Linked DNA regions of Homo sapiens: regions 2 and 3 are each linked to region 1. Evidence: fine-mapped expression QTL. A gene starts in region 1. Each other region holds a variant in brackets. All regions are shown on one strand. Distances are from middle to middle. Region 1 holds the start of PPM1N (protein phosphatase, Mg2+/Mn2+ dependent 1N (putative)). Region 2 has its middle 29 kb from the start of VASP. Region 3 has its middle 11 kb from the start of FOSB.

What was found. PIP is the estimated chance that this variant, and not a neighbour inherited with it, causes the effect.
Region 2: its variant is the best candidate, but not a certain one, in a credible set for the expression of PPM1N in monocytes (TOPMed, PIP 0.55).
Region 3: its variant is the best candidate, but not a certain one, in a credible set for the expression of PPM1N in whole blood (TOPMed, PIP 0.75).

What each region holds. Positions count from the first base shown.
Region 1 is chr19:45,497,377-45,500,135 of GRCh38, forward strand. It overlaps PPM1N (protein phosphatase, Mg2+/Mn2+ dependent 1N (putative)), which reads left to right and starts at 1,067. Exons shown (of 5, transcript NM_001080401.2): 1 at 1,067-2,035; 2 at 2,573-2,690. The coding sequence starts at 1,097. RefSeq lists a silencer at 1,295-1,364.
Region 2 is chr19:45,535,281-45,538,039 of GRCh38, forward strand. It overlaps a transcript of OPA3 not described here. Among named protein-coding and RNA genes, the nearest start is that of VASP, 29 kb to the left of the region's middle. The variant A/G (reference allele first, on the strand shown) is at 1,248.
Region 3 is chr19:45,455,743-45,458,501 of GRCh38, forward strand. No RefSeq gene overlaps it. Among named protein-coding and RNA genes, the nearest start is that of FOSB, 11 kb to the right of the region's middle. RefSeq lists enhancers at 1-72, 1-84, 73-1,039. The variant G/A (reference allele first, on the strand shown) is at 1,294.

The DNA of each region.
Region 1 (2,759 bases):
GAGGGGGTGGAAAGATTCTAATGCTCTGAGGTAGGGTCCGAGCCTAGATTTGCAGAGGGAGCGAGAAAGGGGGCCGAATGAAACGATTCAGAAACTTTTGGGGCACGCGGAGGAGCTCAAACGTGGGCAGGGCTAAAGCAACAGGGAATTATTCAAATATAACTGGGTGGGGTCGGATTCCAGGCGATTCCAGGTCTGCGAAAATTAGAAGGGTCTGGAGCTGTGTGCCTGAATCCTGGATGGGCGGGGCCTGGAAGAGAAAATAAGCGAAGCCCCAGAGGGGAGGGGTCGAACTAAAAACAGTAAAGAAAAAAAAAATATGTATATATATATATATATATATATATATATATATATATATATATCTTTTTGAGACAGGGTCTCGCTCTGTTGCCCAGGCTGGAGTGCAGTGATACGATCACGGCTCACTGCAGCCTCGACCTCCCGGGCTCAGGTGATCCTCCCACCTAAGCCTCCTGAGTAGCTGGGATCACAGGTGTGTTCCACCGCGCCTGGCTAAATGTTAATTTTTGTAGAGACGGGGTCTCGCTATGTTTCCCAGGCTGGTCTCAAACTCCTGGGCTTAAGCGATCCGCCTGCCTCGGCCTCCCTAAGTGCTGGGGTTATAGGCGTGAGCCACCGCGCCCGGCCAAGTATGGTATTTACAGGTTTTGAGGCTGGGGGCTGTACCACTGAGGTGGGAGGAGCTTGGACTGAGTGTTGTGTTGAGAACACAGATTCTAGAATTAGTTTCCCTGGAACACCGGTTACTTCTGTGACTCTGTTTCTTCTTCCATATGTAAACTGGAGATGATGATGTATAACAGTGTGTGACACATTAGTACTATGTAATAGTTTGCCACTGGTACAGTATTATCTTTTTTCTTTTTTTTTCCTGATTCAGATCCCAAACCCCGCTTTGTAGGTGCAGGAAACAGGAGACCCAGAAGTGTAATTCCTTCTAGTGACCCGCCTAAAGAGCAGGTCAAAGGACAGGAAGGAGATTTAGATGGTTTAAAATCTCACAGCGGAGGGGATTAATGGAGGGGGCGGGCAGGTGTACAGGGTGGAGCCTTCCTGATCCCAGGGCTGAAGGATGGCGGTCCTGGCCCGCCAGCTGCAGCGTCTCCTCTGGACCGCTTGCAAGAAAAAGGAGAGGGAGAAGGAGGGGAGGGAGGAAGAGGAGGAGGAGGAGGCGGGGCGCAGGGCCCCCGAAGGGCCTCGGTCTCTGTTGACAGCGCCGCGCCGCGCCCAGCGGCCGCACGGGGGTGCCGAGGCGTCTGGGGGCCTGCGCTTCGGGGCGAGCGCAGCGCAAGGCTGGCGCGCGCGCATGGAGGATGCTCACTGCACTTGGCTTTCGTTACCTGGTCTGCCCCCGGGCTGGGCCTTGTTTGCCGTCCTCGACGGCCACGGTGGGGCTCGAGCTGCCCGCTTCGGTGCACGCCATTTGCCAGGCCATGTGCTCCAGGAGCTGGGCCCGGAGCCTAGCGAGCCCGAGGGCGTGCGCGAGGCGCTGCGCCGAGCCTTCTTGAGCGCCGACGAGCGCCTGCGCTCCCTCTGGCCCCGCGTGGAAACGGGCGGCTGCACGGCCGTGGTGTTGCTGGTCTCCCCGCGGTTTCTGTACCTGGCGCACTGCGGTGACTCCCGCGCGGTGCTGAGCCGCGCTGGCGCCGTGGCCTTCAGCACAGAGGACCACCGGCCCCTTCGACCCCGGGAACGCGAGCGCATCCACGCCGCTGGCGGCACCATCCGCCGCCGCCGCGTCGAGGGCTCTCTGGCCGTGTCGCGAGCGTTGGGCGACTTTACCTACAAGGAGGCTCCGGGGAGGCCCCCCGAGCTACAGCTCGTTTCTGCGGAGCCAGAGGTGGCCGCACTGGCACGCCAGGCTGAGGACGAGTTCATGCTCCTGGCCTCTGATGGCGTCTGGGACACTGTGTCTGGTGCTGCCCTGGCGGGACTGGTGGCTTCACGCCTCCGCTTGGGCCTGGCCCCAGAGCTTCTCTGCGCGCAGCTGTTGGACACGTGTCTGTGCAAGGTCCTGGGGGCGTGGCGTGGTACCTTTGGGGCTTGGTGCAGCAGAGGGAGAGAGCCTCGGGGTTTTGGGGAGGAGGGCTTTGATAGAGAGGCAAGAGTAAAGCTAGCAAAGGAGGGGATAGGACTCAAGCGAAGGGCGTGGCCTGAAGTGGGCAGGGCCAAAATACAGGGGCGGAGCCTGAGGGATGCTTTGAGGCACGGGAGAGTTAGTGGAAGGGACTTAAGAGAAAGGGCGTGGTCTTTTGGAAAGGGGCGATTCTGGGTCGTAGGAGCCGGGCCGGAAGTATTGATTAGTGCTGGAAGGTGGAAGAGCAGGTAAACATCAGAGCGGGCGGAGCTTTAGGGAAAAGGCATTGTTCTCTCAATTGGGAGCGCCTAGGACCGGGTTTGGTCCCAGTAAGAGAGGATTGGCAGGTGGGTGGGACGCGAAAGAAATGGGCATAAGTAGAATGAAGTGGGGGACTTGAACCTGGGGATTGTTGGGAAGCTCTGCCTTGGACTCTCCCCCACCGGGCTCCTTTTTCTCCACCGGCTTCAGGGCAGCCTGGACAACATGACCTGCATCCTGGTCTGCTTCCCTGGGGCCCCTAGGCCTTCTGAGGAGGCGATCAGGAGGGAGCTAGCACTGGACGCAGCCCTGGGCTGCAGAATCGCTGGTGAGCAGACTCTGGGGGCCCAGCTGGAGGGGTGGTTGGCCAGTGAAGGCTGTGCCATAACTTTTTCTT
Region 2 (2,759 bases), 38 kb after region 1:
TTCATTTTCTATTTGTTTGTTGCTGGTACTGATGATAGGAATAAACTGATTTCCGTACCTTATATGCAGTGATCTTGATAAATTATTACTTTTTTTTTTTTTTTTTTTTGAGATAAGGTCTCATTCTGTCACCCAGGCTGGAGTGCAGTGGTGCAATCATAGCTTACTGCAGCCTCAAGTGATCCACCTACTTCAGCCTCCTGAGTAGCTGGGACTGCAGGGACACAACACCATGCCTGGCTAATTTTTGTAATTTTCTGTAAAGACAGGGTTTCGCCATGTTGTTCAGGCTGGTCTCGAACTCCTGGGCTCAAGCGATCCAACTGCCTTGACCTCCCAAAGTGCTGGGATTACAGGCATGAACCGCCATGCCCAGCCTAATTAGTTCTTATTCTTCTTAGTCATATAATTTGTTTATAAATTATTTTAATTGTACATATACACTTTAATTGTTTGAACATAATAACTGTTTTTTTCTTTTCTTTTTTTTTTTTTTTTTTAAGAGTTGAGGTCTCACCCTGTCACCCAGGCTGGAGTGCAATAGCACAATTATAGCTCACTATAGCCTTGATCTCCTGAGCTCAAGAGATTCTCTCACCTCAGCCTCCTGAGTAGCTGGGACTAAAGGTGCCTGCTGCCACACCCTGCTAGAAACTGGTTTTCTTGCCGGGTGTGATGGCTCATGCCTGCAACCCCAGTACGTTGAGAGGCCAAGGTAGGCGGATCACCTGAGGTCAGGAGTTCGAGACCAGCCTGGCCAACATGGTGAAACCCTGTCTCTACTGAAAAAATTAAAAAATTAGCCAGGTGTGGTGGCATGCACCTGTAATCTCAGCTACTCAGGAGGCTTAGGAAGGAGAATTGCATGAACCCAGGAGGTGGAGGTTGCAGTGAGCCGAGATCACACCACTGCACTCCAGCTGGATGACACAGCAAGACTCTATCTCAAAAAAAAAAAAAAAAATTAAAAAAAAAAATGTGGGCCGGGCACGGTGGCTCATGCCTGTAATCCCAGCACTCTGGGAGGCTGAGGCAGGCGGATCACATGAGGTCAGGAGTTTGAGACCAGCCTGGCCAACATGGCAAAACCCCGTCTCTACTAAAAATACAACAAAAAATTAGCCAGGCATGGTGACGGGTGCCTATAATCCCAGCTACTAGGGAGGCTGAGGCAGGATAATTGCTTGAACTTTGGAGGCAGAGGTTGCAGTAAGTCAAGATCGTGCCACTGCACTCCACTCTTGGCG[A/G]CAAGAGTGAAACTCTGTCTCAAAAAAAAAAAAAAAAGTGTATGGAAACACAAAGGGCCAAGAATAGTAATACTGAAGAGAAAAACTGGAGACCTTACACTACCAGATATAAAGCTATCATAAAGCTATAATCATCAAAACAGGGTGGCATTTCCACATGAATAGACAGGCCAGTGGTAAAGCGTAGAGAATCCAGAAATATTCACACATGCACAGTCATATGACTTGTGACGAAAGTGACACTGTAGTGCAGTGGGAAAAGAATGGACTTTTTAAGACACGTTGGATCACTTGAATATTCACAGAGAAAAAAATAAACCTTAACATCTACCTCACATAATACACAAAAATTAATTCCACAGGGATTGTAGATCAAAATATGATAGACACAAAAATAACACTTTTAGAAAAAAAAAGTAGGAGGCTGGGTGTACTGGCTCATGCCTATAAACTGTGCTTTGGAAGGCCAAGGTGGGAGGATTGCTTCAGAGAAGGGGTTCAAGACCATACTGGGCAACATGGTGAAACCCCATCTCTACAAAAAATAAAAAATTAGCCCGGTATGCTGGTGCACCTGCCACCATGCCAGGCTAATTTTTAAAAAACTTTTTAGTAGAGATGGGGTTTCGCCATGTTGGTCAGGCTTGTCTCGAACTTGTTTTTTGTTTGTTTGTTTTTTGAAATGGAGTCTCGCTCTGTCGCCCAGGCTGGAGTGCAATGGCGCAACCTCAGCTCACTGCAACCTCCGCCTCCCAGCTACTCAGCAGGCTGAGCGAGGAGGATCACTTAAGCCCGAGAGTTGAAGGCTGTAATGAGTTGTGATGGTGCCACTGCACTCCAGCCTGGATGACAGAGCAAGACTCTGTCTCAAAAAAAAAAAAAAAAAAAAAAAAAACAAGAAAAGAACTTTCATTCTTCAAAAGACACCAGCAAGAGAGGGAAAAGGCAAATCATAGACTGGAAGAAGCCATTTGCAATACATCAATCTGACAAATAACTCAAATTTAGGACATACAGATACCTCCTGCCAATCAAAAGGGGAAGGGTAGAGAACCTAGTGGAGAAGGACTTGACTCACAAAAGAGGATGGTATCTTTTTCTTTTCTTTTATTTTCTTTTTTTGAGATGGAGTTTCGCTCTTGTTGCCCAGGCTGGAGTGCAGTGGTGCGATCTCGGCTCACTGCAACCTCTGCCCTCCGGTTTCAAGCGATTCTCCTGCCTCAGCCTCCCGAGTGCCAGAGCAGGGAGGGAGAATGACGAGACTAAACTGTAGCTTCAGCTTTCTCTCTTTAAAAACCAAAGCAAAGAGGACAAAATGTTCATTTCTATTAATTCTAAGTGGTGGGTACAAGGTTATTCATTATATTGTTTTCTGTATGTCTGCAATATTTCATAATATATATGTTTTCAATAAAAATTAGCTGGGTGTGGTGGTGTGTGCCTGTAGTCCCAGCTACTCAGGAGGCTGAGGCGGGAGGACTGCCTGAATTCAGGAGGTGCAGGTTGCAGGTT
Region 3 (2,759 bases), 42 kb before region 1:
GTGCCAGTCCCCCAGCCCTGCTGTTCCCACAGCTCTGTGCTGAAGAGGGCGTGGAGGGGGCCAGGGAAGGGAGTGTCAGGCAGCCAGCCGGCTGCCTGCCCTGGACAGCAGCCCAGAGTGTCTGCAGGAGGGAGAGGGTAGTTCAGGAGCCTGAGTCACCCTGGGAGAAACCCCAGCCACATACCTGGCCGCTGACATCACCCGGCCAGGGCACCCCCGGCAGCCTAGACAAGCTGACTGAATCACAGGCGGAATTCAGCCACCCCGGGCACGTGGCCTGCTGTGACCCCCCGCAACACCCCCGAGTGGCCGTCTGGCTGCGGGGGTTGGGCCGGGCACACAGGGGTCAGTGAGGGGGCATGGGGCCTGAGTCAGGGACAGGGTGGCTACAGCCAGAGACCACCCAGCCACAGGCGTCCATGTGGGGCAGGAAGGAGAAAGTTTGGGAAGGAGAGCCTGTGGGGAGGCCCTGGCGGGTGAGGAGGAAGCACGTGTGGGTGTGACGGGGAGGCTGCGGCTTGTGGGCAGCGGCTGGGCGACCCACAGGGGTGGGATGGGGTCTGAGTGTTTGCGCAGAGAATCACCAAATCGTAAGAGACTTGGTCGTAAGAGTCAGTCAGGAGGACAATGGAATCACCAATGTGCTTACACACGCAAAGGCACACACGCACACTCAACACCCGGCCTGGGGAGGCCCTGACTCCACCCACCCCAGGCCAGCGGGGCCTCACTACCCATAAGCCTGCAAGTTCCCTAAGGGACTGAGGCCTAAGGGACAGTTTCCTCATCTGTTGAGTGGGGGTATTAACAAGCATTATTAGGCCAGGCACAGTGACTCGTGAGGCAGAGGTAGGCGGATCCCTTGGAGGCCAGAAGTTCAAGACCAGCCTGGACATCATAGCAAGACCCCTTCTCTACAAAGAAAAAATTTAAAAATTAGCTGGATGTGGTGGTGTGCACCTGTAGTCCCAGGTACTCAGGAGGCTGTGGAGGGTGGATTGCTGGAGTGTTGGAGTTTGAGACTGCAGTGAGCTATTGATTGCACCACTGTACTCCAGCCTAGACAACAGAACAAGATCCTATAGCAAAAAAAAAAAAAAAAAAAAATCACTATTATTGTAATAGCTATGCTTACGGGGAACATACTTTCTGCCAGGTGCTGTTCTAGGCATTCTACATTTTTTTTTTTTAAATAATGGAGATGACGTCTCACTATGTTTCCCAGGCTGGTCTTGAACTCCTGAGCTCAGGCTATCCTCTCGCTTTTTTGGTGGCTGGCACGCCTGTAATCCC[G/A]ACATTTTGGGAGGCCAAGGTGGGTGGATCGCCGGAGCCCAAGAGTTCGAGACCAGCCTGGGAAACATAGTGAGATGCCATCTCTACCAAAAAATCAAAAAATTAGCTAAGCATGGTGGCTCATGCCTGTAGTCCCAGCTACTCAGGATGCTGAGGTGGGAGGATCACTTGAACCTGGGAGATGGAAGTTGCAGTAAGCTGAGATTGTGCCACTGCACTCCAGCCTGGGTGACAGAATAAGACCTTGTCTCAAAAAAAAAAAAAAAAAAAAAAAAAGAAGAAGAAAAAAGAGAGTCAACTGCATCTGTATTTGTGGCACTTGGTACATACACGGTAAGCTTTCTCAAGTGACTCTGTTATGATTCTTAGTACTAAACATATTATTTTCCCTTTTTTTGTTTCTTTCTTTCTTTTTTTTTTTTTTTTCGGTGATGGAGTCTCACTCTGTTGCCCAGGCTGGAGTGCAGTGGTGCAATCTCGGCCCACTGCAACCTCCGCCTCCCAGGTTCAAGCGATTCTCCTGTCTCAGCCTCCCAAGTAGTAGGGATTACAGGACCCTACCACCATGCCCAGCTAATTTTTGTATTTTTAGAAGAGACGGGGTTTCACCATGTTGGTCAGGCTGGTCTCGAACTCCAGACCTTAGGTGATCCACCCACCTTGGCCTCCCACAGTGTTGGGATTACAGGCGTGAGCCACCGTGCCTGGCCAAATACACATTATTTTTATCCCTAAGTCCAACTAGGAAGGCCTCCAAAACAGTCACCCTCACTGCCTTGGTCCAGTTCTACTTCTTACCTCCCTGCAGTCCTTCCTGCTGCCTCTTCTTTGGTTATATATGTCTGTAGTAGGGAGAGAGTGCTTCAGGGACTCCCTCCTCATTCATAACTCTTCAGAACTCAATCATGATTATCTAGATCCACCTCCACCAGGAAGTCCTCCTGGCTTACTCCAGCCTCACTAAGCACTCTCACCACCCAATGCCTGGAGTGGTTGTAGTCAGTGAGTGACACATTGCACAGTGTGTGCCCCCTGGATTGGGGGTGGGTGAGAGACAGCCCCCACAGTGAGTGGCACCCCTGGCCAGGGCCTGGGACAAGTCTGTATCCAAGGGTGGCTCTCTGCTTAGGTCTGTGTTTGTACCTGGGTGTGTCTGTGTCTGCCCTACTCTGTGCATACTCATATATGTGAACCCGTGTGTGTGTGTGTAGTTGTGAGTGTGTGTGGAAGAGGCTGCATGGCAGTGGAAGCTAGGTGTGTGATTCGTGTATCTGTGTGCCTAGAGTGCCTTGTTCTATAGATTTGGATGCCACTCCAAGCAAGTCAGTGGGTCTTTTTGTTTTTTGTTTTTTGAGATGGAATCTCACTCTGTTGCCCAGGCTGGAGTGCAGTGGCACGATCTTGGCTCACTGCAACCTCTACCTCCTGGGTTCAAGTGATTCTCCTGCCTCGGCCCCCCGAGTAGC